4 linked regions of the Homo sapiens genome follow. The protein of the gene in region 2 purifies or fractionates together with the protein of the main gene of each other region. This does not show direct contact. Each region holds a gene or a part of one and is shown on either strand. Other genes may lie near its edges. The genes, in order: FASTKD2, TRUB2, DCAF10 and MRPL39.

What was found.
Region 1: the proteins of TRUB2 (region 2) and FASTKD2 purify together in Homo sapiens (affinity purification with mass spectrometry; 3 studies listed by BioGRID and IntAct, with this or other methods). This does not show direct contact.
Region 3: the proteins of TRUB2 (region 2) and DCAF10 purify together in Homo sapiens (affinity purification with mass spectrometry; 3 studies listed by BioGRID and IntAct, with this or other methods). This does not show direct contact.
Region 4: the proteins of TRUB2 (region 2) and MRPL39 purify together in Homo sapiens (affinity purification with mass spectrometry; 3 studies listed by BioGRID and IntAct, with this or other methods). This does not show direct contact.

The regions. Positions count from the first base shown.
Region 1 is NC_000002.12:206,782,601-206,789,623, forward strand, and holds part of FASTKD2 (FAST kinase domain-containing protein 2, mitochondrial), read left to right. Parts: intron 1-633; exon of another isoform or gene 634-708; intron 709-4,132; coding exon 4,133-4,299; intron 4,300-5,336; coding exon 5,337-5,555; intron 5,556-6,218; coding exon 6,219-6,303; intron 6,304-7,023. UniProt on the Homo sapiens protein: Plays an important role in assembly of the mitochondrial large ribosomal subunit.
Region 2 is NC_000009.12:128,319,425-128,327,134, forward strand, and holds the start of TRUB2 (pseudouridylate synthase TRUB2, mitochondrial), read right to left. Parts: upstream 3,024-7,710; 5' UTR 2,985-3,023; coding exon 2,876-2,984; intron 2,795-2,875; exon of another isoform or gene 2,432-2,794; intron 2,307-2,431; coding exon 2,175-2,306; intron 1-2,174. Other genes in the region: ubiquinone biosynthesis protein COQ4 homolog, mitochondrial isoform 1 precursor, read left to right, coding at 3,435-3,504, 3,592-3,723, 5,719-5,815, 6,355-6,457. UniProt on the Homo sapiens protein: Minor enzyme contributing to the isomerization of uridine to pseudouridine (pseudouridylation) of specific mitochondrial mRNAs (mt-mRNAs) such as COXI and COXIII mt-mRNAs.
Region 3 is NC_000009.12:37,859,788-37,866,810, reverse strand, and holds part of DCAF10 (DDB1- and CUL4-associated factor 10), read right to left. Parts: intron 6,764-7,023; coding exon 6,618-6,763; intron 6,184-6,617; coding exon of another isoform or gene 6,151-6,183; exon of another isoform or gene 6,011-6,150; intron 5,672-6,010; coding exon 5,303-5,671; 3' UTR 1-5,302. UniProt on the Homo sapiens protein: May function as a substrate receptor for CUL4-DDB1 E3 ubiquitin-protein ligase complex.
Region 4 is NC_000021.9:25,604,472-25,611,946, forward strand, and holds the start of MRPL39 (large ribosomal subunit protein mL39), read right to left. Parts: upstream 3,011-7,475; 5' UTR 3,005-3,010; coding exon 2,932-3,004; intron 2,185-2,931; coding exon 1,978-2,184; intron 1-1,977.

The sequences.
Region 1 (7,023 bases), on a different chromosome or scaffold from region 2:
TGGATCAGTCAGGGTTCATTAAAAATCAGAAAAGCATATAAAATGTCATTTGTTAAAACAGTGATTAAAAGCATGGACTCTAGAGCTAGCTTGCTTAGGTTTGAGTTTCAGCATTGCCATTTGTTAGCTGCTTGACTTTTGGCAAATTACTTATCTGTGCCTCAGTTTATTCACTTATTAAAATGGAGATGAGCTATGTCTAATCTCATTGGGTTGTTATTAGAATTAAATGAGTTAATCTATGTCAAGTTCTTATGACAATGCCCAGCACATAGTAATTTTTAGATTTGAAAAAAATTAGAGTGTAGGTCACAGAGGCCTTGGGGGAACAAACTAGGGCAGTTGTGAAGGTCTCAGTGGCAAGATGCACAGGCCATCTGTTTGCCATCAAATGACTTGACTCCAGCTGCTTGCTTTCCTTTTAGTTTTCCCTCCAGATTTAGATTTCTGAAAGAGAACATCTGATTGACTGAGTTTGAGTCAAATGCCCATCCCTTAGGGGCAGTTAATCAATTAAGTGGTGTCAGGCCAACTAAAAAGCAGCTTCCCACTGTACTGTCCACTGAATGGACAGACTCAGCTCATACTGCATTTCCTGTGTCTTCCCTAATTGTCACCGTCAGAGTCCCTGTGCTTGTCATGTCTTACCCAGTCTCCGGTGCAGCCTTGACAACAGGCTGCACCGGAGACTGGGTAAGACATGACAAGTTGTGTCACATCATTTGTTGTGTCAGTAAGTCTGTCTCTGCTCCTCAGTTGGTAAGCTCTCCGGAGTCCGACCCAGCTGCCTGTTTTTCTGAACTTAGTACAGGACCTGCCAAAGAGTAGACATTTAATAAAGGTCGAAAAATATCTCCCAAATTCAATCTTCCTTTACTCCCCTGGCTTCATTTTCTTCTGAGGCTGGCTCCCATTGATGCCTTGTACTTTCTAGACAAATAATATCAAGCTAAGTGGTAATTAAAACTCCAGAAACAGCCCCAGAGGGATTAAGAGAGTAAGTACTGGGCGGGTAAGAGTTTTTCAGGTGACTCCAGGCAACCTGAGAGATAACTTGTTCCAACAAAATTGTTACATTGAAAATAGAGGGGGGATAACAAAGGTAACAAAGGCTGGGAGGACATTTAATAAAATGGCAGTAGTAGAATTAGTACAGGAGGAGAATCATGAATGTTGTCTTTTTGTCTGTCTATTCTGCTTTCATTTAACCTAGTGGTTTTCAAACAGGGATGATTTTGCCTCCCAGGGGACATTTGGCAAGGTATGGAGATGGTTTTTAGTTGCCACAACAGGAGGGAGGTCTGTGCTACTGGCCTCTAGTGGACAGAGGCCAGGGGTGCCGCTAACATCCTACTATGCAGAAGATAGCCCCTCACAATAAGGAATTATCCAGCCCCGGATGTTAGTAGTGCTGAGATTGAGAAACCCTTACCTAATTCTAAGCCTCCCACCTCAACATTTCTCCAAAGGAGAAGTAGGGGCAATATGGCAGATATAGCAAGATTAATTAGTCACCATTTCCTGAATGCCCATGAATGTACAATTGCCTGGATTTGGTATTTTGAAGGCTATAAAAAAAGAAGTTTGTATTCCCTGCTCTTCCTAGACCATTTATGAGAACAACTCTGTTGTATATCCAGAGGAAGGCAGTACATGGTAGGCACCAAGTAAGTGCTTTATGGAGGAAGGAGAAAGGAAGATGGCAACTTATCTGGAGTAGCAAAGGTTTTGGAAGCAGAATAACTCAAAGTATTTGGGAAGAGAGTTGACTAGAAGAGATGGTTAGATAGGAGAGTGGTAGGAATTCTGGCTTATTGTATACCCACATGCTATACATTAATCATTATTTCATTTATGATGGCCCATCGGGGAGAGGGTGTTAAATCCAGAGTATCTTGCTGGGCTTTGAACCCAAGGAACAAATATGTAACGTTTAAGCTCTGTTGTTTTGGTCCTTTGGTTTCTTCTCTTCTTGATCTGTATTTACCACCTTATGGATAATCCCACATTTGCATCTGTGGTCATTAGTGTGCTCCTTAACTCCAGACCTGAGTCTCTGTGGGTTGCATATGGTCACTGCACATCCCAGAAGTGTCTCAAGTTCAGTAATTCTGGAAGTCAGCTATTTTTCTTGACTCATCGTTTTCCAATGACAAGCTCGTCCTCCTGTCTTCCTCATCAAAGTTTATTTGTTCGTTTAGTCAGCATTTGCCAAGCACCTGGACACTTAGGAGAAAGATGAATAAGACAGTCCTTCTTGCCAGAGGATTCTGTGTAATGGGTAAGGTAGATATGTAAATTGGCAGTTAAATATAGCATGAAAATTCGAGTGATCTAGCATATTAGTCTGTTTTCACGCAGCTGATAAAGACATACCCGAGACTGGGCACTTTACAAAAGAAAGAGGTTTAATGGACTCACAGTTCCACATGGCTGGGGAGGCCCCACAATCATGGCAGAAGATGAAAGGCACATCTCACAGGGCAGCAGACAAGAGAGACAGCCAAGCAAAAGGGGTTTCCCCTTATAAAACTATCAGATCTCGTGAGACTTATTGACTACCACAAGAAGAGTATGGGGGAAACCACCCCCATGATTCAGCTATCTACCACTGGGTCCCTCACAACACAAGGGAATTATAGGAGCTACAATTCAAAATGAGATTTGGGTGGGGACACAGCCAAACCATATCATCTAGGATATTTGGAAATAGAGGAAGGATATATCAGGATGCCAGCCTGGTGAAGAGGAGGGTCAGGGGATATCAGGCAGTGTTGCCTGGAGGGGTTGGTATCTGAGCTGATCTTAAAAGATGGAGAGATGGGGTTTTACCATGGAAAGATAAGCAGGAAAGAACATTCCAAGTGAAAGGCCCTCTATATGCAAGACCTGGAGGAAAGAAACAGCAGAGCACATGCAGGGAACAGCACACAGTTTGGGCTGCTGAAGCATGAGGTACAGGGTGAGGAGTGGGGCAAGAGAAGACCAGAGGGGGGATCATTACCCAGGCTCCCAACTTCCTTGTCCACACCATCCCCTGCCCCCGCATCCCACTGCATGTTCCAAAAGCAGTCAGTACTAATTTCAGACGTGCTGCCTTGCTATTGCGTATATGATCTGTTATATTCCTCCCATTTCATCATAATTCCTATCGTTTTCCTGGCCTTATCACAGCCCTTCATCCTCCCCAACACTTCTTCCCCTACCCATGGACCTCTCAGTTGATTTCAGTCTCATTGTTAACAAGGGCTTGTGTCCAGGCATATTTGCCCCAGCTGTTAAGAAACACTCCTCTGTACCTTCATCTCACCAGTTATTCACTATCAGGCAAGTAGCATGTGCTTTCAGGGCTGTGCTCAAATCTTCTTCCCTTATTCCATCTTTTCCACTTATTCAAATTCTCCTCCCAAAAGCTTCTGTTTATTTTCTTTCCTCTGCGAGATCACAGTACTTTGCATGTATTTCTTTTTTTATATAACTATATGTATCATATGCCCTGAGAATCAGATTGACGTGTGTTCAAAGGGTATCTACCATTTATTAGTGGTGTCACTCTGGGCAAGCGACTGCCCCTGATTTTGATCTTTTCTGTCTTCATTTGTGCTTAACCACGTTATACTGTGTACCATTAGCTGTGGGTGGTAGGATTAGGCTTGCAGTTCTTTTAACCCATAGTATTGATAACTAGATAATTTTAGTTGGTTATAAAACTGTAGTGGTGGTCCAGGCGTTATAGAAAATCTAGCATAATTATGAAAAGGTTCTGGAGCCTGACACCTTATGTTCTAATACTGCCTTTGCTACTTCCTTGTCTGTGTGTTCTTAGACAAGTTACTCAATCTCTAAGCCTGTTTACCCATTTTTTTAAATGAGGAGAATAATAGTAATACCCATGGAGTTTTTTAGTGTGAGTTAAATGAGTTAAAGTCTATAAAATGTTTGTCTCGTGCAAGACATACAGCAATAGCCAACATTTATTGAATGTATACACTTATTATGAGATAACCAACTGTCCAGAATGATGTGTGGATACTTACTTGCAAGGCTGATTTTCTTATCTCTTTTCTTTGGAATCGTTACAGATATTGGCCTTCTGTATATGTTGGGAAACTGACTTTTCTTTGTTCCCCAGACAGTTCGTGGAAGTTATGGCTAGTGCTCTGACTGGTTATCTTCACACTATTTCTTCTGAAAACTTATTGGATGCAGTATATTCATTTTGCTTGATGAATTACTTTCCCCTGGCTCCTTTTAATCAGCTTCTGCAAAAAGACATCATCAGTGAGCTGCTGACATCAGGTAGGATGTTAGTGCAGAATTGGTCACCAATTGTGACCAATTCTGCACTACCACTAGCTACCATATGACTCTGAATGGGGTCTTAGTTGGAGCAGTGTTAGTTGAAATTTGCAGAGCAGGTGTTGCTGTGGAAAGGGCTGATAATGGTGAAGTCAAAGGATAGTGCTTCAAAGCAGCAAACCTACAGACCCTTCTTTAATGACAAGTCCTACATGTAGAAAAAAATAAGGAATGCATCATTATTCCTTTTATTTATACTCTATCCTTCTATACAAAGGCTAACTGTTCAGGCTGTTCTTTATGCTTTGATCAGAGCTGTTTTAATTCCTAATCCTTACTTATCACATTTGAAGCCAACCTAAGTCAATTTTTGCAGCTGTAAACACTTGGTCACTCCTGGCCTGTGATGAGGGAACACCTGTTAGATCAAGAAACCAAATAGCCACCAAATTAATTAGTTCATTTACTCTTGGAACCAAATTAACTGTTGACTTTTAGTCTTTAGTATTAAATAAGGCAAAGCAATATTCAGGTAGATGTACAAAATTTGACGATGTGTCTGAGAATAGAGTAGTTCAGAATTAAAACATAAATAAATAAATGTTATAAAATCCCAAAGTTGAGTTGTAGAGAGTCAGTCAATAATACCACGTGCTGGTTTTTCAGGCAGTGTAATAATGGAGAAACAGCCTTGAACCTTGGAAACCTGGATTCTAGTTCCAACTTTGCCTTAATTACGAGGCTTTTTAACTTTCCTGGGCATTTCCTTATCCATAAATTGAGGAGTTTAGACTAAATGACCTCTAAAGATATTTGAAGCCTTAAAACATTATCAAGTGCAGGGCTTTGATTTAGACCCTGTGGAAACCAGGGAGACAAAGAGAGAGTCCTTGTGATAAGAAAGAGATAATTAGAAATACAAGTGCATTTATGTATATATTTATTATTTTATAACTATTACTAAATATATACTAATATAGTTTTTTAATGTTGCATTTATTTCTTCTTAATGATATACTCTCTTTTTCATCTTTTAGATGACATGAAGAATGCTTACAAGCTGCATACTTTGGATACTTGTCTAAAACTTGATGATACTGTCTATCTGAGGGACATAGCCTTGTCACTCCCACAGCTGCCGCGGGAGCTGCCATCGTCACATACAAATGCAAAGGTGGCAGAGGTGCTGAGCAGCCTTCTGGGAGGTGAAGGACACTTCTCAAAGGATGTGCACTTGCCACACAATTATCATATTGGTATGGGACATTATATGATTTCCTTTCATTTTATTGTATTTATTTTCCTTTTTTTCTGACCAAAAAAATAGGTATTTGTGGCAGCAGTTTAGTGTAGTGCAGCATTGCCTCTGGAACTGGCCTGATTCTTGCCTCATAAAATTCTTGTGACCAATAAATGAAATTCTACACATTTTTATGTGTCTAAAATCCCAAGACTAGTATCTGACACATGGTTAGCTCTCAATATATTTTAGCTACTGCTATTATCATTATTGGTAGTACTATTAAACATTTTGAAACAGAAAATCACTTGGGGCTGGTCACGGTGGCACACGCCTGTAATCCTAGCATGTGGAGAGGCCGAGGCAGGTGGATCACTGGAGCTCAGGAGTTCAAGACCAGCCTGACCAAATGGTAAAATCCTGTCTCTACCAAAAAAATACAAAACTTAGATGGGCGTGATGGCATGCCCCTGTAGTCCCAGCTACTCAACAGGGTGGGGTAAAAGGATTGCTTGAACCTGGGAAGTTGCTGCAGTGAGCTGAGATCACACTACTGCACTCCAGCCTGGATGACAGAGCGAGACCACATCTCAAAAAAAAAAAAAAAAAGGAAAAGAAAAGAAAAAGAAAGTCACTTGGAGGAATGTTTGAAAAATTAATATCAATTCTTTCCTTTCAGATTTTGAAATCAGAATGGACACTAACAGGAATCAAGTGCTACCACTTTCTGATGTGGATACAACTTCTGCTACAGATATTCAAAGGTTGCTTACATATATTTCATTTGCTGGGCTTTCTGAATTAAAATCCTAATTCTAAAAGACTTCATATTAAATAGCAGTAGTAAATCTAAGACTTGATGTTTGTATGGAGCCTGCAGCACACCAAGAGACTTGTCATCCATCAATGTACTCCTTAGAAAGTGTAAATGTGGACGTTATGGTTGAATACAATGGACTACAGTATTGGTCATTTAATGAGACAGACATTTTTTTAAAATTAGGTTTTGAAGCTATAGTTCAATAAAACAATATTAATATAATTGAAACTATCAATGCAGTGTAGACTTTGGACAAGATAATATAATAGTGATCATAAAGAATAAAGACTCGAGGCTTCTACAAAAATCAAATACCCAATAAATATTTTGCTCTACCACCAAGACTTTTCCAGAGGTAGAGAAACCGTAGTTTTTTAATTAAACTGTATTTGTATGGGTTAGAGCACATTGAAGCTAATCCTAAGTTGTTTCTTTGGCTCACACATTACAAATAGAGTGTCTCTGGGGAGAAATATGATGCTATACCATGAGAGAACATCCTGCCTCTTCAGTAGATGCATAAGATCATGCCATCATTGCACACACCCGTGGGTCAGTTACCCTTTATGTAAAAGCTCTGCTACATGGATCCTGACCCCAAGGAACTTGTATCTTCTGTTAACTCCACTGGACACACACACACACATAAATATGATAGAAACAT
Region 2 (7,710 bases):
AGGTTTCAGTGAGCCGAGATCTCACCACTGCCCTCCAGCCTGGGTGACAGAGTGAGACCCTGTCTCTAAATAAATAGAATACTACAGTTGTCCCTTGGTATCCAAGGGGATTGGGTCCAGGATCCCTTGCAGATACCAAAATTTGTAGATGTTCAAGTCCCTGATATAAAATGGCATAGTATTTGCATATAACCTAGGCATGTCGTCCCATATACCTTTTTTTTTTTTTTTTGAGGCAGAGTCTCACTCTTTCACCCAGGCTGGAGTGCAGTGGCACGATCATGGCTCACCACAACCTCTGCCTCCCAGGTTCGTGCGACTCCTCGTAACTCAGCCTCCTGAGTAGCTGGGATTACAGGTACGTGCTATCATGCCCAGCTAATTTTTACTAGAGACGGGGCTTTGCCATGTCTTGAACTCCTGACCTCAAGTGATCCGCCCACCTTGGCCTCCCAAAGTGCAGCGATTACAGGCGTGAGCCACCACACCTGGCCACTTTTTTTTTTTTTGAGACTGAGTCTCGCTGTGTCGCCCAGGCTGGAGTGCAGTGGCACGATCTCCGCTCACTGCAAGCTCCGCCTCCTGGGTTCACGCCATTCTCCTGCCTCAGCCTCTGGAGTAGCTGGGACTACAGGCGCCCACCACCACGCCCGGCTAATTTCTTTGTATTTTTAGTAGAGACAGGGTATCACCGTATTAGCCAGGATGGTCTCGATTTCCTGACCTCGTGATCCGCCCACCTCAGCCTCTTTATTTTTTTTGGAGACAGAGTCTCACTCTGTCACCCAGGCTGGAGTGCACTGGCACAGTCTCGGCTCACTGCAGCCTCTGAACTCCTGGGCTCAAGTGATTCTCCCACCTCAACCTCCCGAGTAGCTGGAACTACAGGCATATGCCACCCCACCTGGCTAATTTTTTTTTTTTTTTGAGACAGTTTCACTCTTATTGTCCAGGCTAGAGTGCAATGGCACAACCTAAGCTCACCGCAACCTCCGACTCCCGGGTTCAAGCAATTCTCCTGCCTCAGCCTCCTGAGAACCTGGGATTATAGGCATGTGCCACCACACCTGTCTAATTTTGTATTTTTAGTAGAGACGGGGTTTCTCCATGTTGGCCAGGCTGGTCTCGAACTCCCGACCTCAGGTGATCTGCTCGCCTCAGCCTCCCAAAGTGCTGGGATTACAGGTGTGAGCCACTGCACCCGGCCTTTTGTATTCTCTTGTAGAAGTAGGGTTTCCCCATGTTGCCCAGGCTGATGTTAAACTCCTAGGCTCAAGTAATCCACCGCCTCAGCTTCCCAAAGTGCTGGGATTACAAGCATGAGCCACCAGGCCTGGCCTTCCCATATATTTTAAATCATCTCTAGATTACCTTTTTTTTTTTGAGACGGAGTCTCGCTCTGTTGCCAGGCTGGCGTGCAGTGGCACAATTTCGGCTCACTGCAACCTCCGCCTCCCGGGTTCAAGTGATTCTCCTGCCTCAGCCTCCTGAGCAACTGGGACTACAGGCGCCTGCCACCACTCCCGGCTAATTTTTGTATTTTTAGTAGAGACGGGGTTTCACCATGTTGGCCAGGATGGTCTCGATCTCTTGACCTCATGATCCACCCTCCTCGGCCTCTCAAAATGCTGGGATTACAGGCGTGAGCCACCACGCCTAGCTAGATTACTTATAATGCCTAATATAATGCCTATGCATCACCTTGAGTGGATTCAACACAGTACTAGGTGCACAGCAAATTCAAGTTTTGCTTTTTGGAACTTTGTGTTTTTCTTCCCAAATACTGCCAATCTGAAGCTGGATCATGGGATGTGGAACTCATGGACTCAGAGGCAACTGTACTTAGTGACACGTGAAAATTACCTGAAGTTCAAATATGAATATTCATAAAGTTCTATTGGAATACAGCTAGGCTCATTCCTTTAGATACTGTCTATAGCTGTTTGGCACTACATTGGCAGAGTTGAGCAGTTCCAACGGAAATCACATGGCCTGAAAACTAAAACATTCAGTATCTGGCCCTTTCCAAGGAAATCTGCCAATTCCTGGTCTAATACCTCACTCCTCTGTGGACCTTCAAGGGCCTGGCACAGGAATCTGAGCACTGGGACACTGACTCGGCTCAGGGATTTCCTGGGAAGTGACACACAGGATCCTGCTTAAATCTGCCTTACCCAGTGGATGGTTGATGAAAGAGGGTACGCTGGTGGCTGTGAGGGTCAGCTCCTTCTCTTCGCTGCCTTCCATGGGGCCCAGCAAGAAGCGAACACGCTGTTTAGGAGCGGGAGGCTTCCTGGCATTGAGACCTGAACACACAGAGATAATATATACACACATACATACAAATATATGTACATATAAAATATTTTTTAAGAGACAGGGCCTCGTTCTGTAGCCCAGGCTGAAGTGCAATGGCGCCATCATAGCTCACTGTAACGTCAAACTCTTGGGCTCAAGCGATCCTCCTGCCTCAGCCTCCAGAGTAGCTGGGATTACAGGCGTGCACCACGATGCTGACCAGGAATATCTTGTTCTGTCCAAACACTTGGGGGATTAGACAACAGGGAAGTATGATGTAGAAGACAAAGCAGAAGCCCATGGTGCAGAGGGCAGTATAGCAGTAGTTAAGAAACAGGCGGATTCAAACAGACTCTACAACGTAGTAACCGTGTGACAAGGAACAATACTGAGTCAGTTTCCCCCTCGGAAAACAGAGGAAAGTGAGGAGTAAGAAAGCACAGAGAACAGGCGTTTGGGAAAGCGCTCTGCCCAGGTGAATAGGTCACGTGATTTTGTTTTGGGGTAAGGACCAGAAGCGGAGATGGACTTCCAAGAGAACGAGAGCGGGAACGTGGGTCTGGTTCGAGGCACTCACCCTTCAGAAGTTGTAGCTCCACTGTATCCCGCAGGTGCTTCCATTTTAGCCCCGGGGGCTTATAGACCGCGAAAAGCCCATGCAGCCGCGACAAGCCAGCAGACCCCATACTTGAAGATCACAGCACCCGCTGGACCTGGACGGAAGTACCGCCAGGCCCCGCCCCCAAATGTGGTCCTTTCCACGGGCGCCGCCATGTTCCACAGCCGGAAGAGGTTCGCATTTTATAGTCTTCGGGGAAAACCGGCTGTGGAGAAGGAAATAGGGCCCGGCGCTGAGTGAGCGTGGTTGCGTGTCCTTTGCAGACACTTTCTGGGGCGAGGTGACATGGCGAGAGTCTTGGATCGGTGGACGTAGACGGTAGACAGTTCGCGTGCGTTTCCTTCGCCTACTTGGCCTACATGCCTTCTGCCCGTGAAGCGATGTTTCCCCTCGAAAGGCCGTAGGCTACGCCGTCAGAATCGGTTTTTCAGTGAGTTTTGACCCCTCCGACGCTCCGTCGCCTGACAGAATCGCGGCGTTCTTCGTACCCGCCCATCCTCCGCGGACGCCCGCTGCCATGGCGACTCTGCTGCGCCCTGTCCTCCGTCGGCTCTGCGGGCTCCCGGGCCTACAGCGGCCTGCGGCAGGCAAGTGGCGCCGGGTTCTGGGCGCAGGCGGGAAGGAGCCTGAGGGCGCCCGGCTCCTCTGACCTCGGCCTTTTTCTTGCCCCGCAGAAATGCCCCTCCGGGCTAGGAGCGACGGCGCCGGCCCGCTATACTCGCACCACCTCCCCACCTCCCCGCTGCAGAAAGGGCTGTTGGCCGCCGGCTCCGCGGCGATGGCGCTCTATAACCCCTACCGCCACGGTAAGGCCGCCCGCGCCTCGCCCCCGTGGGGGCGGCTTGGAGCCGTTTCCTGTGGGTAACTGGAACATAGCCTAGGTCGGGGTACCCAAACCTGGTTGCAGCTCGTAACCACTCGGAACGTTTATGAAAATGCAGATTCCTGGATCCCACCTAAACGCACTGAATCTGAATCTGAATCTGCAGTGGAGGGAGAAATGGGCGTGAAACCGAAAGTCTGTCTTTAAACTACTTGGGAGAATCTGTCATGCAGCCATATTGAGAACATCTAGACTAAATAGATGATTCATAAGTACCGATCAGTTTATAATATCCTACTAGAAAGTCAACTCCGAGGTCGAGGACCATGTCTGCCTCGTTCCACTGCATCTGCAGCCTTCTGGATAGTGCCTGGCACATAGTAAATGCTCAATAAATGTTTGCTGGATGTGTGACTAGAACATTCTAGGGTTCTACAGTGTTTTTCTTATGCCTCCTAGATTTTTGAGTTCTGGGAAGTACTGTTATTCCTACTAACAAAAACAGGCTAGGCGCTATTATAGTGGCTCACGCCTATAATCCCTATCGGGGGGCCGAAGCGGGCAGATGGCTTGAGCTGAGGAGTTTGAAACCAGCCTGGGCAACACGGTGAATCCCCATCTCTACAAAAAAAAATACAAGAATTAATTGGGGCTGGTTGCATGCGGCTGTATTCCCAGGCTGAGGTGGAAGGACCATTTGAGCCGGGGAGTTCGAGACTGCAGTAAGTTGTGATTGCGCCATTGCACTCCAGCCTGGGCGACAGAGCGAGACCCTGTCTTAAACAAAAAATACACTATATCTCCATGTCCCCAGTGGTTTTTTGTTTGTTTTGTTTTGAGACACAGTATTGCTCTGTGGCCCACGCTGGAGTGCAGTGGCGCAATCTCAGCTCTATGCAACTTCCACCTCCCAGGTTCAAGCGATTCTCGTGCCTCAGCCTCCTGAGTAGCTGGGATTACAGGCCTGTGCGGCCTGGCTAATTGTTGTATTTTTAGTAGAGACGGGATTTTGCTATGTTGCCCAGGCTGGTCTCAAACTCCTGACTTCAGGTGATCCTCCCACCTCGGCCTCCCAAAGTGTTGGGATTACAGGCATGAGCCACCACGCCCGGCCAAGACCAGCGAATTTTTTAATTTTTTTGTAGAGACGGCGTCTTGCCACGTTGCCCAGGCTGCTCTGGAACTCTTGGCCTCAAGTGATCCTCCTGCCTCAGCCCCCCAGTGTTGAGATTACAGGTGTCAGCCGCTACACTTGGCCACTAAGTGTTATATATATATGATTTTCATGGTTTCTCACATTAACCAGCTAAGAAAGGTGTTGTCTGCACTTCACAAATTAAGACACTGAGGCTGAAAAATGTGAAGCAGGCCAGGCATGGTGGCTCACACCTGTAATCCCAGCAATTTGGGAATCCAAGGTGGGAGGATCACTTGGGGCCAAAGTTCAAGACCAGCCTGGGCAACATAGCAAGACCTCATCTCTACAGAAAATTTAAAAAACTAGCTGCATGCCTGTAGTCCTAGCAGTGAGCTATGATCACACCACTTCACTCCAGCCTGGGCAACAGAGCAAGACCCTGTCTCAAAAAAACAAAACAAAACAGAAATGTGAAGCAATTTGTACTAGGTCACCTAGATAGTGAACACACCTGGACTGTAGCCCAGCATCTCTGATGCCTAAGCCTCTACCAATCAATGGAGACATGATATTGTATTGTGAAAAGTGATTTATAAAATCTTTACAACGTTGTGCTAACTAGAGCTGTCCCGCCCCAGTAGATTAAGAATAAGAACTATAGATATGTATACTGATCCCTTGTTGTGTGCTGGGTAATTTGCTAAGTGTTTAGCCTGAATCCTTATAACAAAGAGCTAGACATCATCCCTAATTTATCCTGTAGGAAACAAAGGCTCAGACCAGGTCAGCTAACTTACCTAAGATGACATCCCCCATTTGTGCCCGTTTCTGTCCTTTCAGACATGGTCGCAGTTCTAGGGGAGACCACAGGACACCGCACCCTGAAGGTCCTCAGGGACCAGATGAGGAGGGATCCAGAGGGTGCCCAGATCCTGCAGTAGGTCCCAGCTCTGCCTGGGGGTCTGGGGGCATTCTCTAGGTATTCTGACCTCTCTAGAATCACATTGTGTTTGTTCTGTTCCGCTAGGGAGCTTTTGATACCCTGGCTACATATGGTTGCACAGGCTGGGCACTGCCCAATTCCAGGGGTGTCATTCACATACATGTGTATACACTGATGACTTCCGAGTTGTGCAGTGTGATAGCCTTGGCCCAGTTTCAACCACAGGGCTCTGTGCCTTCATTAAGTTCCCATAACATGTGCTGGCTTTACCCCTCCCTTGCAGTACCTTTTGCAAGTACTCTGGTCACATTCGAGGACTGTCTTCCTGCCGAGATTGTACCCCTGCCCATGTCCTTGGTTTGGGGTAGTATCCTAAGTCCCTGACACTAGCCTGGCCAGTTGTAGGTGCTCCATTAAGGCTTGTGGTGGCCACATTGCTCCTCTGTACATTCTCCCGCCCCTCAGCTCGCTGTAGTTGGATCGTTCACCTACCTTTGCCCACACCCTCCCAATGCCCAAGTCTTGCCTTTCAGGGAGCGTCCCCGGATTTCGACATCCACCCTCGACCTGGGCAAGCTCCAGAGCCTGCCGGAAGGCTCCCTCGGTCGCGAGTATCTCCGTTTCCTGGATGTGAACGTGAGTTTTCAGCTCCTGTGTATCTGGCAGTCACCAGACAGGACAGAGGAATAGCACAGGCATGACACCCTGAGGAAAGAGGAGCCCTGAGCTGCCACCATTGGCAGGAGTGCTCTTCAGGCTCATGCCAAGGCTTTGTCATTTTCTATGGGATAGGCAAATGGGTGGGAACATGCCTGCAATTGATAATACTGGCCAGTGTTCATTAACCTCGCACTGCATGCCTGATGCCAGCCTCATCCGTGATCTTGCTGAATCCCCCCACAACTCTGTCAAGTATGTTCTATTATTATCCTCTTTTAGCAGATAAGGAAACAGAGGCTCAGAGCAGTGAAGCAAACTTGCTAATTCCACATAACTGGTATTAATGGAGATAGTAATCAATCCCAGATCATGCTCTTCACTGCTGTACTGTATCCCTTTATTCCAGGGACATTGCTTTCCCTACGGTATGGCAGGTGTGGCACTCTCCAGCCCCTCCAGCCCCAGGCAGGGAGGACAAGGAGAGGGGGAAAGGGGGTGTCCCGACTATTGGCAAACTCATTCACTAACTGAGGCTCTGCTATGTGCCATCCCTTTTTTTTTTTGAGTCGCTCTGTCGCCCAGGCTAGAGTGCAGTGGTGCGATCTCTGCTCACTGCAAGCTCCGCCTCCCAGGTACACGCCATTCTCCTGCCTCAGCCTCCCGAGTAGCTGGGACTACAGGCGCCCGCCACGACGCCCGGCTAATTTTTTGTATTTTTTAGTAGAGACGGGGTTTCACCGTGCTAGCCAGGATGGTCTCGATCTCCTGACCACGTGATCCGCCCGCATCAGCCTCCCAAAGTGCTGGGATTACAGGCGTGAGCCACAGCGCCCGGCCCATCCTTTTTGTTTTGTTTTGTTTTGAGACAGGGTCCCGCTCTGCCACCCAGGCTGGAGTGCAGTGGCGCCGTCTCGGCTCACTGCAACTCAGCTTCCTGGGTTCAAGCGATTCTCCTGCCTCAACCCCCCACGTAGCTGGGACTACAGGTGCACACCACAACGCCCAGCTAATTTTTGTACTTTTAGTAGAGAGGGGTTTTACCATATTAACCAGGCTGGTCTTGAACTCCTGACCTCAAGTGATCCACCTGCCTCAGCCTCCCAAAATGCTGGGACTACAGGTGTGAGCCACCGTGCCCAGCCCAACCATTGTTTTGTGTACAGGGGATATAATGGTGAACTAGACAGCCAAGTTCCCTGCCCTCATTTCTATTCTACTTCGAGAGGTAG
Region 3 (7,023 bases), about 90 Mb from region 2:
TGTTTATTCCTTAGTCTAGCAGCATCCTTAGTTTGTAGTATATCTTACTTAGTTGCAACTAAAAAAAATTGCTAGCCTAGGCTTTAACTGGGAGTTTCTATTATCTAGAAGGTTACTGTGAACCTTTCAGAAAAGTGGAAAGCAACCAAAAGAGCTGTCTCAAAGACTGTGTCCCCCCAGAGTTTGTCCAGCTCTTACTGTAGACACTCTGAACAGGCACGGTTATCTCATGTCCAAAGCTCATAACAGCACATTAGAAGAAAGTGGGGAGCCTGTTAGAAGCAGGCATATTGATAGTGTGGGAGAAGACATAGCAAATTACTTAGCAGATATTTTAAAAATTTTAAAATCCAACAGCAGTCTGAGGCAAATGATTCTGTATACCTCAGGGCTGAGAGAATCACTTTATAACATATTTGTTATAGCCCTTTACATTTTATGAAGTGTTTTACATACATCAGAGCTGGATACTTATAATAATACATTATGAATATAACTTTAACTTTTCATCATGAAAATGTGAATTATACTGAGCATGATGTTTAAGAAGAAGGCAGGAAGGTATACTAACATACCTGAAATACTCACATCAAAAATAATTACAAGTTTTAAATGTTGGCACTTGAGAGATATACATTAGCTATCCAAAAATTCATATGTACGGTTTCCTTCAAGACCAACACGGGGTATCACTGAGTGAATTTTCACAGCGCTCAGTGACTGCTGGTCATTAAATGGGGATGATTGTCATCAGTATAAGTATCACACTATTTGTCCTGCTAAATGCAAGTTAAAAGATACTTATGGATGCCACTACCACATATTCTGACAAATAAGGGAAACACTAGGCTTTTAAAAGATTCTTAGAGTGTTTTCCCTATATTGCACTTTCTAGATAACACAATTTTAACAATGATATAATGTGATCTTGGTTCTAGACACAGCAGTGGGGAACACATGAATTTACCTTTTTCTTGTTCCTTTTCTTAAAGTTTTTAGTATAGTCTCAGGAATATAGCAAGGAGAAATAACAAAATATACATGTGCTTTGGGCTTCTGAGGAAAAAAGACCACCCACACACATTTTTAAAAGACTAAAATAGACGTCTCTTCTGCTTTAGCCATTTCATTTTCACAACTGAAAATAAGGAACTACTATATATTTGATGTCCCTAACTCATTAAACATAGCATTGCCATAAATGCACTGTTCTGCGGAAAACTTTTTAAAACAGTAGAACAATTTGTACTGCATTTACTAACAATTATACTACATTACCAATTATCATGAATTATGAATAAAAATTACTGAATAAAATTCAGAGTAAAAAACATCAGATTAGATTTTACTCTTAAGTGAAATGGGGCTTTGAAATGTTAAGATGTAATTTCTTCCAATACTATAGCATTCCTAATGCCCTTTAATTCCTTGATTAATATTCCTTGCTAACTTTTTGATCATCACCATATCTCAAGGAGGACAAAGGTTCTTTTGAGTTTGCTGGCTGTTAATTTTTAATTCTCATCTGTGTGGCTCGGTTTTTTTTCACAATGCCGTTTATCCTTAATTTTTCTTTTCTATTTTATAGCTGCTTATTCTGCTTGAAGTTTTTTAGTCAGGAATGGCCAGAATGTGTGCCCTGAGTTTATGATATTCTCATGGAAATTGTTAATCTTATGAATTTTTTTTACATGATACACACGGTAAGCTAGCTCTATAATTAAAAAAAAAAAATCCAGAAGATACTAAACAAATAACAGGCCAGCTTACCATACTTTACAAACTAAAGAGCACAATGGTAAAGCAGTAAGCACAGGCTTTGGACAAGACACAAACCTGGGTTTGAATCCCAGTGCTGCCACTCACTGCTAACTCTATGACTTAAGGCAAGTCATTTAATCTTTCTGACCCACTATTACCTCCAAATTAAATTGGGGCTCATTCCACCTACCCTGCAAGTTTTTGTGAGGGTTAGTAGTGAAGTCTGTATATTATTTGACACATGATAGGTACTCTATAGTAAAGAATCATTGGCTGAATTTTGAGTTGGGTAACTTGCTGGTCTAGCATCTGACATGAACTCTTTCCAGAGTTGATACGATTTATGAAACTTCTTTTGAATGTCAATATGACCACAGTACTTGGTAGGTATTTTTAAATAATAACAGTTTGGGTGTTTTCACCTCCAAAACTAATTTTATTTTATTTTATTTTTTTTTTTTTTTTTGAGGCAGAGTCTCGCTCTGCTGGTCAGGCTAGAGTACAGTGGTGCGATCTCGGCTCACTGCAACCTCTGCCTCCCAGGTTCATGCGAGTCTCCTGCCTCAGCCTCCTGAGTAGCTGGGATTACAGGCACCTGCCACCACGCTTGGCTATGATTTTTGTATTTTTGGTAGAGACAGGGTTTCACCATGTTGGCTAGGCTGTTCTCAAACTCCTGACCTCAAGTGATCCACCCACCTCAGCCTCCCAAAGTGCTGGGATTACAGGCATGAGCCACCATGCCCAGTCTATTTTTATTTTTTGAGACAGGATCTGGCTCTATTGCCCAGGGTGGAGTGCAATAGTGCAATCTTGGCTCACTGCAGCCTCTGCCTCCCAGGCTCAAACCATCCTCCCACCTCAGCCTCCTGAGTAGCTAGGACTACAGGCGTGTACCAACATGCCCATCTAATTTTTGTATTTTTGGTAGAGATGGGGTTTCGCCATGTTGCCCAGACTGGTCTGGAACTCCTGGGCTCAAGTGAACCTCCCACCTTGGCCTCCCAAAGTGCTGGGATTACAGACGTGAGCCACCATACCCATCCCTATTTTCTTTAAAAAATGTGTTTTTTACAAAATGTATGGTAAGTATATGTATTTACTGTGCTTTGTGATAATTTTCTCAGTGACAAAAAATTTCCAATTTTGTTAACATCCATGGTAAAATGATCTAATTTCAAAAATTTGTTCTAGAGCCAAGATCCTTATAACCTCTATAAATGTGTGTGAATAGTTAGTTGGCAGGTCCTACAAAGAAATGTCATTTTTATTCATGTATTTTGGGTTGTTTAAACATTTCTGTAAGATTTAAAATACTTTTCTTCTTATGGCTAGAATTCTCAGCATCTACTCCCATGCCTGCCTTTCTAAAATCTATTGGCCAGTTTAAGGGTATTTACAATAATACAACTTAAAGACAAAGTGTCCATAAGTCATTATTTCTAACAGACAGCATAACACAGTAGAAATTGCCCTGACCAAGGAATTAGAAGACTGGAATTCAAGTCCTAACTCTGCCACTAACTTTGCAGGATGACCTTAGGCAAGTCATGTCACTTCTCTCATTTGTCAAATAATGCAAATGATTCCATTCTAAGGTATTTTCCACCTCTAAAATTGCTTTCATTTACTATTATTATTTTTTAAATAATGAAAACACTTTCTGGGAATTGTCTTAAGCCCAAATGGGTAGAGAAGAATTTTTTTTTTTTTTTTTTTTTTTTGAGACAGAGTCTCGCTCTGTCGCCTAGGCTGGAGTGCAGTGGTGCAATCTCGGCTTACTGCACCCTCTGCCTCCCGGGTTCAAGTGATTCTCTTGCCTCAGCCTCCTGGGTAGCTGGGATTACAGGTGAGCACCACCACGCCCGGCTAATTTTTGTATTTTTAGTAGAGATGGCGTTTCACCATGTTGGTCAGGCTGGTCTCGAACTCCTGACCTTGTGATCCACCCACCTCGGCCTCCCAAAGTGCTGGGATTACAGGCATGAGCCACTGCGCCTGGCCGAGTAGAGAAGAATTTACTGCTGATTAAGGTTGTGTTTTTCAACCTGCAATCCCGAGACCCTCAGAATAAAGATTACTTGAGGTTGCTATGAAAAATACAGATTCCTGTCCTCCCCCTGGCTGAATCAGAATCTCATAAGGTGAGGCTCAGGTTTCTGCACTTTTCACAAGCTCTGTAATGGTTACAGTGCACCCTAATGTTTGAGAACCAGTGGCCTAAAGAGAATGCAACCTAAGAGGGCAAGGCTAGTGCATAGCTTAAATCGCTCCAGCCTTTGGTAATCCCTTCTAAACACAGTACCACCCATGTGGAGGAGACTGCAAGGAAGCTGTTATTCAAAGTAGAACAGTCAGCCTTGTGCTTGAGTCCTGCTTTATGCTTGCGTGTTTCATAACAAAACACAAAGGCAAGTCTTCATATCAGCACTTAGTCTTGATATCCAAGTAGCTGACTACTGTACTTATGATAACAGCTTGAAGAGGACTGCAACTCTCCCCTCACGAATGGTGACAGAGTTGGCTTGTCACACCTGGCTCAGGGAAGAAAAATGAGTAAACCCCTACCTCTTTACTCTTGATTCCTCTTCCACCCTAATACTGTTAACACATCATCCTGTGTGATTCAAATAATCTGGCAGATGAAATACAGAAAATCTAAGTCATATTGTTCTTATCACTCTATGGCCAGATATTATACTAATCTAATTTTAAAAATCCTTTTCTGTGCAATAGAAATAACCAAAGCTCATTCTGTCTCCTTTCCTTTCTAATGCTGTTGATAGGAACAAAATATCAAGTAAGGATACATGCTAGAGATGTTAAATTCATACAAGTAAAGTAAATTACAAAGAGAGGTGGTAATATTTTTTTCTAGAATTTCACAATAAAATCCCTCTCACCATGAAAATCTTTTTATAATTTTAACAGGAAACTTAAAAGACATTTTGTTGCAAGACTATCTTAACAATTATAAGAATAATGCCATTATCTGTGCTCAATATAGATAAACATAACAGTAACTTTAAAAGGCCAAGTATACTCATAAGTGAGGATGAAATTTATTTTTCAACAACCAATATGCCAATATCCAACTTCTAGGTTTTATTCAATTCTAATGTCATGGGTTTCTCCTACCCCAGTCAAAACTCCTGCCAAATGTCCACAAAATTGACACCAAAATCAACAAACACAAAGAAAGAGAGGGACAGGGAGAGGGAAAGAGAAATAGAGAGTGAGGAAGGAAGGAACGTGACAAGAGCTACCATGCAAAATGACCAGAAGAACTGGAGTTCAGTGGCACAGATCAGCAGGAGCAGAGGAATGCTGCAAAAGATGATGCTGCATAGAGTCTAACTTGGAGATGCCTGTATGATGCTGGATGACCAAGTACTAAGGTCACAAGTGTGTTCATGGACCCATAAGAACCAGGATCTTGACCCAAACTTATAAGATCTTCTAAAAAGAAAATACTTCATCTAAATTGAAGCAATTCCTAAGTCAAACACCAGAAGAGTTCCTTATTTGATGTAAGTTGTGCCTAAAACTTTGGCTGATACAAAGAAACCCGTCCACTAAGGCACCCTGAGGCAATCTGACAATGTGTTGGAGAGAACTTTGTTGTCAGTACCACATCATTATGAGAGTACAGAGAACGGATCACCCGCAGGGGACTGGCTTCTTTGGGCAAGCAGTCAACAAGTTCACTGCACTGTTTGTCAAATCCCAACAAGCGAATCCCATAGCCATGTGGGGAAGAAATCATTCGTCCATCGGGGCTGAAGCAAAGTTCTTTGATGTAACCCCTGCCTACATTGGCTTCTTCAATGTAATGAGTCAGTCGTAGAGAACAGCGAGGTGAGACAGGTCGCACTGGAGCTCCTTCTTGGAATTCATAGACACAAGTACACTAGGGGGAGAGAAGGGAGACAAACCAAGGTTACAGAGCCCAAATAGTGCTACAGATATTCCTTATTTTTAAAAAGCTCAACAGATTGCCAAAGCCACAGAATTTTTACAAGAAATCACTCAGAATAATGCTATCCCCCTCCCAACTAACAAAACTTGTAGGCCCCCTACTTTCTTATCTTCATAAGCTGAGGTTATTCTGTGTTATGATGCTTTAAAGCCTTTTGTTCCCTGAGGCTGCCTGTGACTTTTGCAGTAATACATTCTCTTTTCTAAGGGCAACAACAATGTTGATATTTTAAAAATTCCTGGAGTACATCCAAGCCCTAGAGTATCTTACCTCTTCCCCTACACAATTCAAAGGCTCTTCTCTTCTCTCCTTTCAGTTGTGGCCTCTAGGACCAGTGAGATCCTTGGAAGACTCTTGCTTTCCAGAGTGATGAGAATCATAAAGTCATTTAACACCTTTCCCCCTAGTCATCAGTATAGTCCCTTCCTTTCCCAGAGTTTCCCCTGGTTTTTAAAAAAAGAAAATTATGATACTCAATTGGCTTAGTAAAATCTCACATTTAGCCAGCTTAGCTGAAACATTTCAGACCTATGTTTATTATACAAGGGGTTTTTGTTTGTTTGTTTGTTTGTTTGTTTAGGGTGAGATGAAAGAGGCAAGATTTAAGAAGCTGGGCAAAAACTGAGCTGATGCTGGCCTTTAAAGTACCTCCCACCTTGCTCAACCCCAGCAGGAGAGGAATAAGAAGAGTTTGGAAGGGATAATGATACCATATGAAGCAAGAGAGGACAGAAACAGGAGAGTCGAGAAGCAGGATCTCTAGCAGTATGCCCTTGAAGGCAGAGACTGCAGTCAGCGATCGGCCTAAGCTCTGCACACACGGCAATGGCAATTTGTCCAATGAGCCCTGTTGAAGGTGGAGTGCTGCTGCCTGTACCTCCTCATCATCACTGTTGCTTGAGCACCGAAGAAGAGTGGCCCAGCCTTTTGGGTGCAGCTGTAAGGACGTGATGCAGTTTCCGTGGTCACTCTCACCAAGAACTTCAGGGGTTACGACTTCAAGACTATTTCGTGGTGAAACTCCTGAGATATAAGAAAATGAGGATGTGGGATTTGTATTATCAAAAAACTAAGGCAGTTCATCAAAGCTTTTTATTTCTGGCAGCCACCTCCCATGCCGTCATTCCTTAGTCTGCCCCTTATGCTACCATATGTTAAAGAGCGTGGTACTCCCCAATGTATGGTGTGTGAGTTTTGGCGGGGTGAAGGTGTGGGGAAAGGGTATAAATAGAACAAAAGATCCAAGTTCCCACAGCAGTAATTGTCACTGACCTAAGGCTAAG
Region 4 (7,475 bases), on a different chromosome or scaffold from region 2:
GAAATATATTAATACACACCTACAAAAATCAGTTCTAGATTGGTTTTGGGTCTTGCTCCCAAACCATCTCTTATTTCCATGACATAGATGCTTCAAGTTAAATACAGTAGTTACCATTTTTTAATAATTAATATTAACTCCCGGATAAGCCAATCAGCTCTGGTCTGTTTCATCATCCCAGAATGCAATGCCAACTGTTAATGCCAATTAGATGTTCTGCAATTACACAGCTACTCACAAAAGTAGTCAAACTACAAGGTCTAAATTATCAACCACTACATAAACCCCGTAAAGTCAGGGATCATGTCTACTTTTGCTCACTCATCAGTATATCCAGAGTCTAGCACCAGGCCTGGAATATAGCAGGTGTTCAATAACAGTTTACTGAATGACTGCAAGCATGAATGACAAGAACGTCTCATTGCAGGGGTCATGCTGAGGATGCTTCAGAAGCTTCATCACTACATGTGATGTGTATAAAGCTCCTTAAGGGCCTGAGTTTTGTCTTATCCTCCTCTGTAGTCCTAATGCCTATCATATCGCAGAGGTTCCAGAAATACTTGAAAACCAAATGAGTAAATATTTATAAGTACTAATTCAAATGCCAGAGTGAAGGAAGATTAAGAGTGAGTGTAGACTCTCTAGGCCAGTTTAAGCTGATAACTAAAGTTGTTAATTACTTAAATGGAATGGTTACTGAGTTTTCCAAAAGTTTAAGCAATGCAGCTAGTCATGCCTGTATCTGTTTTGGGGCTTCTTTAATTTAAATATTACCAGTTCTATCAAACGTACTATCAAAACATTTTGATCAAAAATAAAATATAGAAGTTCTTATTCCCTTCATTTCCACACAAAATCACACATGGGGCACAGTTGTCTCCTTTAAGATATACATAAATACTTTTACCCCAATCACATTCACCCCATGCACATTCCCACTCACACATTTACCACATGTACATCTAAATGTCAACAAAAATACAACACAGAGAGAGCCAAGTGGAAAGCAGATGATAGATTAAGTTAGGCTATACAATGAAGAGGGGAGAAAGAAAAAGGCGGCAAAAAAAAGCTGATCATCTGAGGCCATGGCAATCCCTTTACACCAAAATCCTTTCTTGAGACCTGCACGGTGACTCCTCCCACCACATCACAGCCCTAGCTAAAAGGAGCAAGCAAATTCCAGCTACTTGGGAGGCTGAAGCAGGAGGAGAGCTTGAGGTCAGAAGTTCAAGACCAGCCTGGGCACCACAGCCACCCTCTCTCTCAAAAATAAAAATAAATTAGCCAGGTGTGATGGTGGGCACCTGTAGTCCCAGCTACTTCGTAGGCTGAGGCTAGGAGTTTCAGTGAGCTATGATAGTACCACTACACTCCAGCCTGGGAGCAGGGCCAGACCCTCATCTCTAAAATTAAATTAAATTAAAGGAGAAAGCACACTAGTAACAATGCACTCAGGTCTGGTCACCTTCTGCCAGAAAATTATCTAGTACCATAAACAAAGCCAGATTCAAACAAGCGCCAGGCAGGACAATCTGTGCACTACAGTGCCAACCTTGCAATACTCAGAGTACCCTCCAGAACTACAGGGACAGTGAATAGACAATAAGGTGCCAGATAAAGAACCTCTGGGAAGTCCAGGGACTTCTGCGCCCACCACATCTGGCTAATTTATTTCTATTTTTATTTTTTGAGAGACAGGGTGGCTATGGTGCCCAGGCTGGTCTTGAACTTCTGGCCTCAAGCTATCCTCCTGCTTCAGCCTCCCAAGTAGCTGGGATTTGCTTGCTCTTTTTAGCTAGGTCTGTGATGTGGTGGGAGCAGTCACCATGCAGGTCTCAAGAAAGGATTTTGGTATAAAGGGATTGCCATGGCCACAGATGACCAGAAGTAATTACAGCATCCTGTCTCCTGCACCAGTGCTTCCACACAGCTTAAGTAAAAGGGTCAAAACTGTAACCTGATTCTGCTACTTACGCATGGCACAACTGTAGGGAGTTGAAATGTTTTTATTCATCACGAAGACAGTACCGGGGTCAGTTTTCCCAACATGCTTAACTTCTATCTTCTCAGTTCGGGGAGTTAATGATAACTGCCTGGCTTTCTCTTTATTAAAGAGATCATTCCGCATTTCTGTCAATTCTGTCGGTGACAGCTGAGAAGCTGACGATGTTGCTATAAATCCTGTGGAGAAGTTACAATAAATATGAAGACTGAAAAAATGATTAACGTACTGCCAAAAGTGCGCTCAGAGGTAAAATTAAACCAATTTGTAATATTAACAAACACCAGCGGAAGAAACAGAGCTGGCCCAGATACGTGCCTCTACTTTTAAATTTGGCTCTTTCACATCAGATCGCTATTTCCCACCAATTTCCTGTGTCGTGTTTCCAATCAGTGCTTTACAATAAGGGGCAAAAAGTAACCAGGAAACGGAGTCAAAACTGGACTAGAGTCATTGGGAAGGTGAACAAAGTGGTCGGTTTGACAGGGTCTGAAGAAAAACAAGAAAATTTCAGGAAACCAAAGGTCCCACACCGAAACTATCAATATCCAGAATGAGAAATGCTGAGTTTATATCCCAAAGGCCAAATCAGGGAACCTGCCAAGGCAAGTACGAGTATTCCTTGGGAAGACATGGACAGATGTGCACGGAACGTGCGCTGCTTCCCAGAGGCGGGCCCAAGCTCCTCCCGCGGCCTGGCTCCGACCCCTGGCCCCGACCCCTGCCCTTGCCCCTGCCCTCCGCCAGACCCTCGTTCCCATAAATTAGTCCTCCCAAGCTGTGCAAGAGCGACCGCCGCGGAGGGACTAAGAAACCCTCCTCCTTCCTCTGCCCCGCGGGACCTCCCCGGCCCCGCCTCAGACCCAATCTAGACAGACACCACTATCTAGGCCTCGCTCCCTGTCCCTACGGCCTCTGAAACTCACTCCATTTGATCCCGCCACCGGGTGCGACCAGCCAGAGCCGCAGCGCCCGGGAACCCATGGCCAGCGCCTCCATAGCAGCGGTGAGAACCGTCGCGCGCAAGTCCTTCTCCGCCCTCCTCCCCCGGAAACCGAACGCGCACTCGGAGTTCCGCAGGACAGGTCTGTTCCGGACCCAGCACTCAGACTGCTCGCCTCCACCGGGGGGCGTCAGGCCTCGCTGGGGATTCAGTGGCTGAGACCCCGAGACTCGGAGCCGGGGCGCGTTACCTGTGCTCGATACCTGGGCGCGGTCACCTACCCAGAGGTGCAGGGCCCCCAGGGCGGTCGGCCTGCCGCCCACCACGTAGGCTCTGCAGGGAAACAGAGTTCCACAGGCGTCGTTGCCCTCCGCCTTCAGCCCTCCGCGGGTTCGATCCCGGCCACCCAGGTGAAGCGCTTGCTTCCCTAAAAGAATATATGGTTTTCTTGGCGGGGGCGGGGGTGGGGGGGAATGGGGAAGGCGTCTTCTATTTTGTCAGCGATGACATCCTCTAGCGCGTGGCTTAACTTTCAATTGTGCCGGGTAGGTTCTTAGTTCGGCTGGAGTGGGTCTGCACCCCGGTTCTCCCCTTAGCTGTGGTAATAGAGGCCTCGGAACACGTCCCCTTGACTTTGGAGAGGACGTTGTAATTCCTAAGAGCTCTTTACAAATTTTCTAGTTTAGTTTATATAGTATAGGATGTATAGGAGAAGGCATCCCGGGGCAGAATTTTTGTCTCTAGTTCACTGATGTATCCCAAGCGCCCAGAACAGAGCACAGCGCAGTCAGCGCTCAACAGATGTTTCTTGAATGAATGAATGAATGAATGCCCTTGCAGGCAAACTTCAGCTCATTGTCTAATTTTTCTGTCCTACCAGGACGTGAGTGTTATTTGAAGTAAGCACTCTGTAGGTACAGGATGGAAATATTTTCATTTACAGTAGTTTAATTCTGTGGCTTTACTTAAGGGTGTCGAATTCAGCCTTTCCCCCACTCTGTCCTTTGCCTTGCAATTGGAATGCGCCGCCACCAGGTGGAAGTGCCGCCTAAGGTACAAATATGACCCTGCGCCACGATAGATCGACCGTCTCCTTGGCCCAAATGTTACACTCACAACCACTGCGCCAGGAAAGTGTAAGTATCTTCACTTTTTAAAATGGGAAATGTAAGTGACGGAGCTTGGATTTACATCCAGTCTACATTTTACCAGGCTACATTTCATTTAAGATCCTAATTCAAACCACGAAATGTACATATATACATATAGTGTTGGAGGGCGGGTGTATCTTTTGCTTCCTCAAATTTGCATACAGTTCCCATGAAAGCTGTCTGTTTCATCGGCCTTTTAGAGCCTGTACCCATTTAACCTTACCTAGAAACACTCTAGTGCCCTTAGAACATCTTAGAGCCACATTTAAGCAAAGCCTCTGAACATAAACTTAAGCAAGTTTGATCACAAACCCATTGGAGGCAGGTAATTGGAGTTCACCGGTATGAGAAATTAACCTAGTTGAAAGGTTGTCACTAGTGATAATGGCCAAAAAATACTATGTGCCAATCATAGGGCTTGGTTTATTAATTTTCACAACCTACCTGAGCAATTGGCATAATAATCTTCATATTCCAGGAAAAGAAATTCAGGTTTTAAGAGCTTGAGAGACATACCCGAGGTAAATCTTTGGCCAAGAATTCCCCCCAAATATTTTCTTACTCTGAATCTTCTTTATCTTGCCTTCTTTATCAACCAGCTCCCCAAATCTTAGTCTCACTCTGTCAATGTCTCTGCCAAATAAAAAGTATCAAGTCTGTAACAGTAAATATCTAAGATAAGCCTGGATCATTACTGTGCCAGAAAGCCTACAACTAACTATAAAATACAGACAAACAGAAACATGTTAAAAAGGACGGCGGACCAAGCTCGAAGGTCCTCCCGCTGTCCAAATTTGGGAGAGTTTGCATAACAAAAAGAATAATGCTGAAATATTATGACATGTATATTAAAAATTCATGAATCCGTAATGACACTCAAGAATAAATCAGTGTAGAAAGAGTGAAGAGAGTTTTCTGTACAAAAGAATGCCAGATAATAAAAGTCATAGGAATAATAGAATAGGGAAAATCACCATTCTGCATCTACCAATGTAACCATTGGTACAGGAAGGGATCGTCAATAGATGCTAAAATCAGTAGAGAAAGTTTGTTGAGGATCAGGGATATAGTCACATAGTCTCTAAGTATCACCTCACATATTACTGACAAAATACAAATGGATAAGTGAAACTTTTCAATGGAGAAATCTGGTGGATATCATCATCAAGTGGTCAAACTTATCATCACCCAAAATGAGACAATCTGACATTATTTGTGCTTCTTGGTTGTGATATAAACAATATTATCTATGGAGTATTCCTAACATAAATATTTAACCTGAATCTAAAGAATTATGAGGAAATCAGGTATATCCAAAAAGTGATATATTCTACAAAACAACTGACCTAAACTCTTCAAAAATGTAAGTTTTATGAAAGATGAACCCCCAAATAGTTAATAAACTGTCCTAAATTAAAGGAGACTAAAGAAATATACAGTTATTATCAATGCATGATCCTCGCTAGGTTTTGGATCAGGAAAAAAAATTTACAAAGAATGTTATTGTGACAGAGAAACTTGAACTGTATACTAAATAATATTATATCAATGTTATACTTCTTGGATACAATAATAGTGTCATGGTCATATAGGAAATAATCCTTATTCTTAAGATATATATATTAAAATATTTAGGAACCAAATATCACTATGCCTATAACAAACTCCCAAATGTTTCAGCAAAAACAGGGAGCTCTAATATTGAGGGAGGGAACAAGACAAATTTAGCAAATGTGGCAAAATGTTAACAATTAGAGAATCTAAGTGAGGATTTTAGTTGAACTACTCCTTCAACTTTATTCTGAAATGTTTCAACATCAAAACTTTGGAGAATAACTTCAGTGGTTTTCAACCATGAAAGTTTATTTTGCTTATGTTGGCTGTCAGTGATGGCAGCTACCAGCCAATTGCGGCTCTGCAACTTTATTCCAGAATCCAGGCCATAGAAGCAGCCCCTACTTGGTCTTGTGCTTCTTGTGGCAGAGGGAAAAGAATGCAGTTAACCACCTTGTGCACTGGCTCTTAAGAGCTTCTGTTCAGACTCACCTGTGTCTCAGCCACACAGTCCCCTGGCCCCAGCAAGTCCCCTGGTCAAGACCAATGTCAATCAAGTAGGATGCCTCCTGCAGGGAGCCAGTAAATGAGGTTATATACTTCACATTCAAGGAGGAATGCAAATCACTGGAATCAAGATTCAATAACAACGCCAGGTTTCATGGCTCACTCTTGTAATCCCAGCACTGTAGAGTGGCTGAAGTGAGCAGCTCCTTTGAGCTCAGGAGATGGAGACCAGTCTGGATAACATGGCAAAACCCTGTCTCTACAAAACAAATACAAAAAATCAGCTGGGTGTGGTGGTACTTGGGAGGCTGAGGTGGGAGAATCACCTGAGCCCAGGAAGTCGAGGCTGTAGTGAGCTGTGATTGCACCACTGCACTCTGGCCTAAATGACAGAGTGAGATCCTGTTCCAAAAGAAAAAAAAAAAAATCCAGTAACACAGTAATTTTCCCAAGATCGCAAAGATTATCTGGGGCTTAAACTCAGATCTGGCTGTCTCCAAACCCTATACTTTCTTTGTTCTCAAATTCATACGCTTTTTAAATCCAAATATTTGATTTTACATTTTCAAATCATTATACATTTACTTGTTGGGAAATTTTGTCTTTTAATGTAAAGGTGCCTAAGGAAAAGTTTCACTCTCAGTTCTTTTCTTGATTCACAAGTTCTTACCAAAACCCCACACAGGATACCACTGTTGAGAGTTCTTGATGCCTCTATCAGCTACCCCATTATTATGCCTCTATCAGTATCCCCATAAGATAGAGGAACATAACCTCTATCTTATGTTCCTCCTACTGACCCAACATGCAAGATACCAAACATATGGTTCTGTGCCTCACAAAGCTGTACTTTTAATCAGTTTGTGTTAGTCCAGATACTCTGAAGAACAGATACCAAGACAGAGGTAAGTATGCAAGGAAATCGTTAGGAGAAATGTTTGTAAGGGAAAAGGGGAAGGTGGCCAGGTAAGGCTGACTCCATGTGAAGAAGAGAAGGAAGGAAAATTGAATGAACGCATTCTTGACCACCAGTGCAGTCTAATAAAGTTTCAGCAAGATCATTAGGTAAATCCCCAAAGCCAAAGTGGGCATGCCTCAGTGTCCCCACTGTGCTCAGTCTTTGGCTGGGAGCAGCCCCTGGGAAGCAGGAAGCATGTTTGCCTCAAAGCAAACATGTTATTTCAGAGTTCAGCAGCTGGGGCCCTGGGTCAGTTACACTGCCTGTAATTGAAGGTCTAGGAAGCATACAAATAAGCTGTATTTTGGGAATCAAATAATTGCAGAAGCATTTGACATGCATTTTACGTGTCTACAT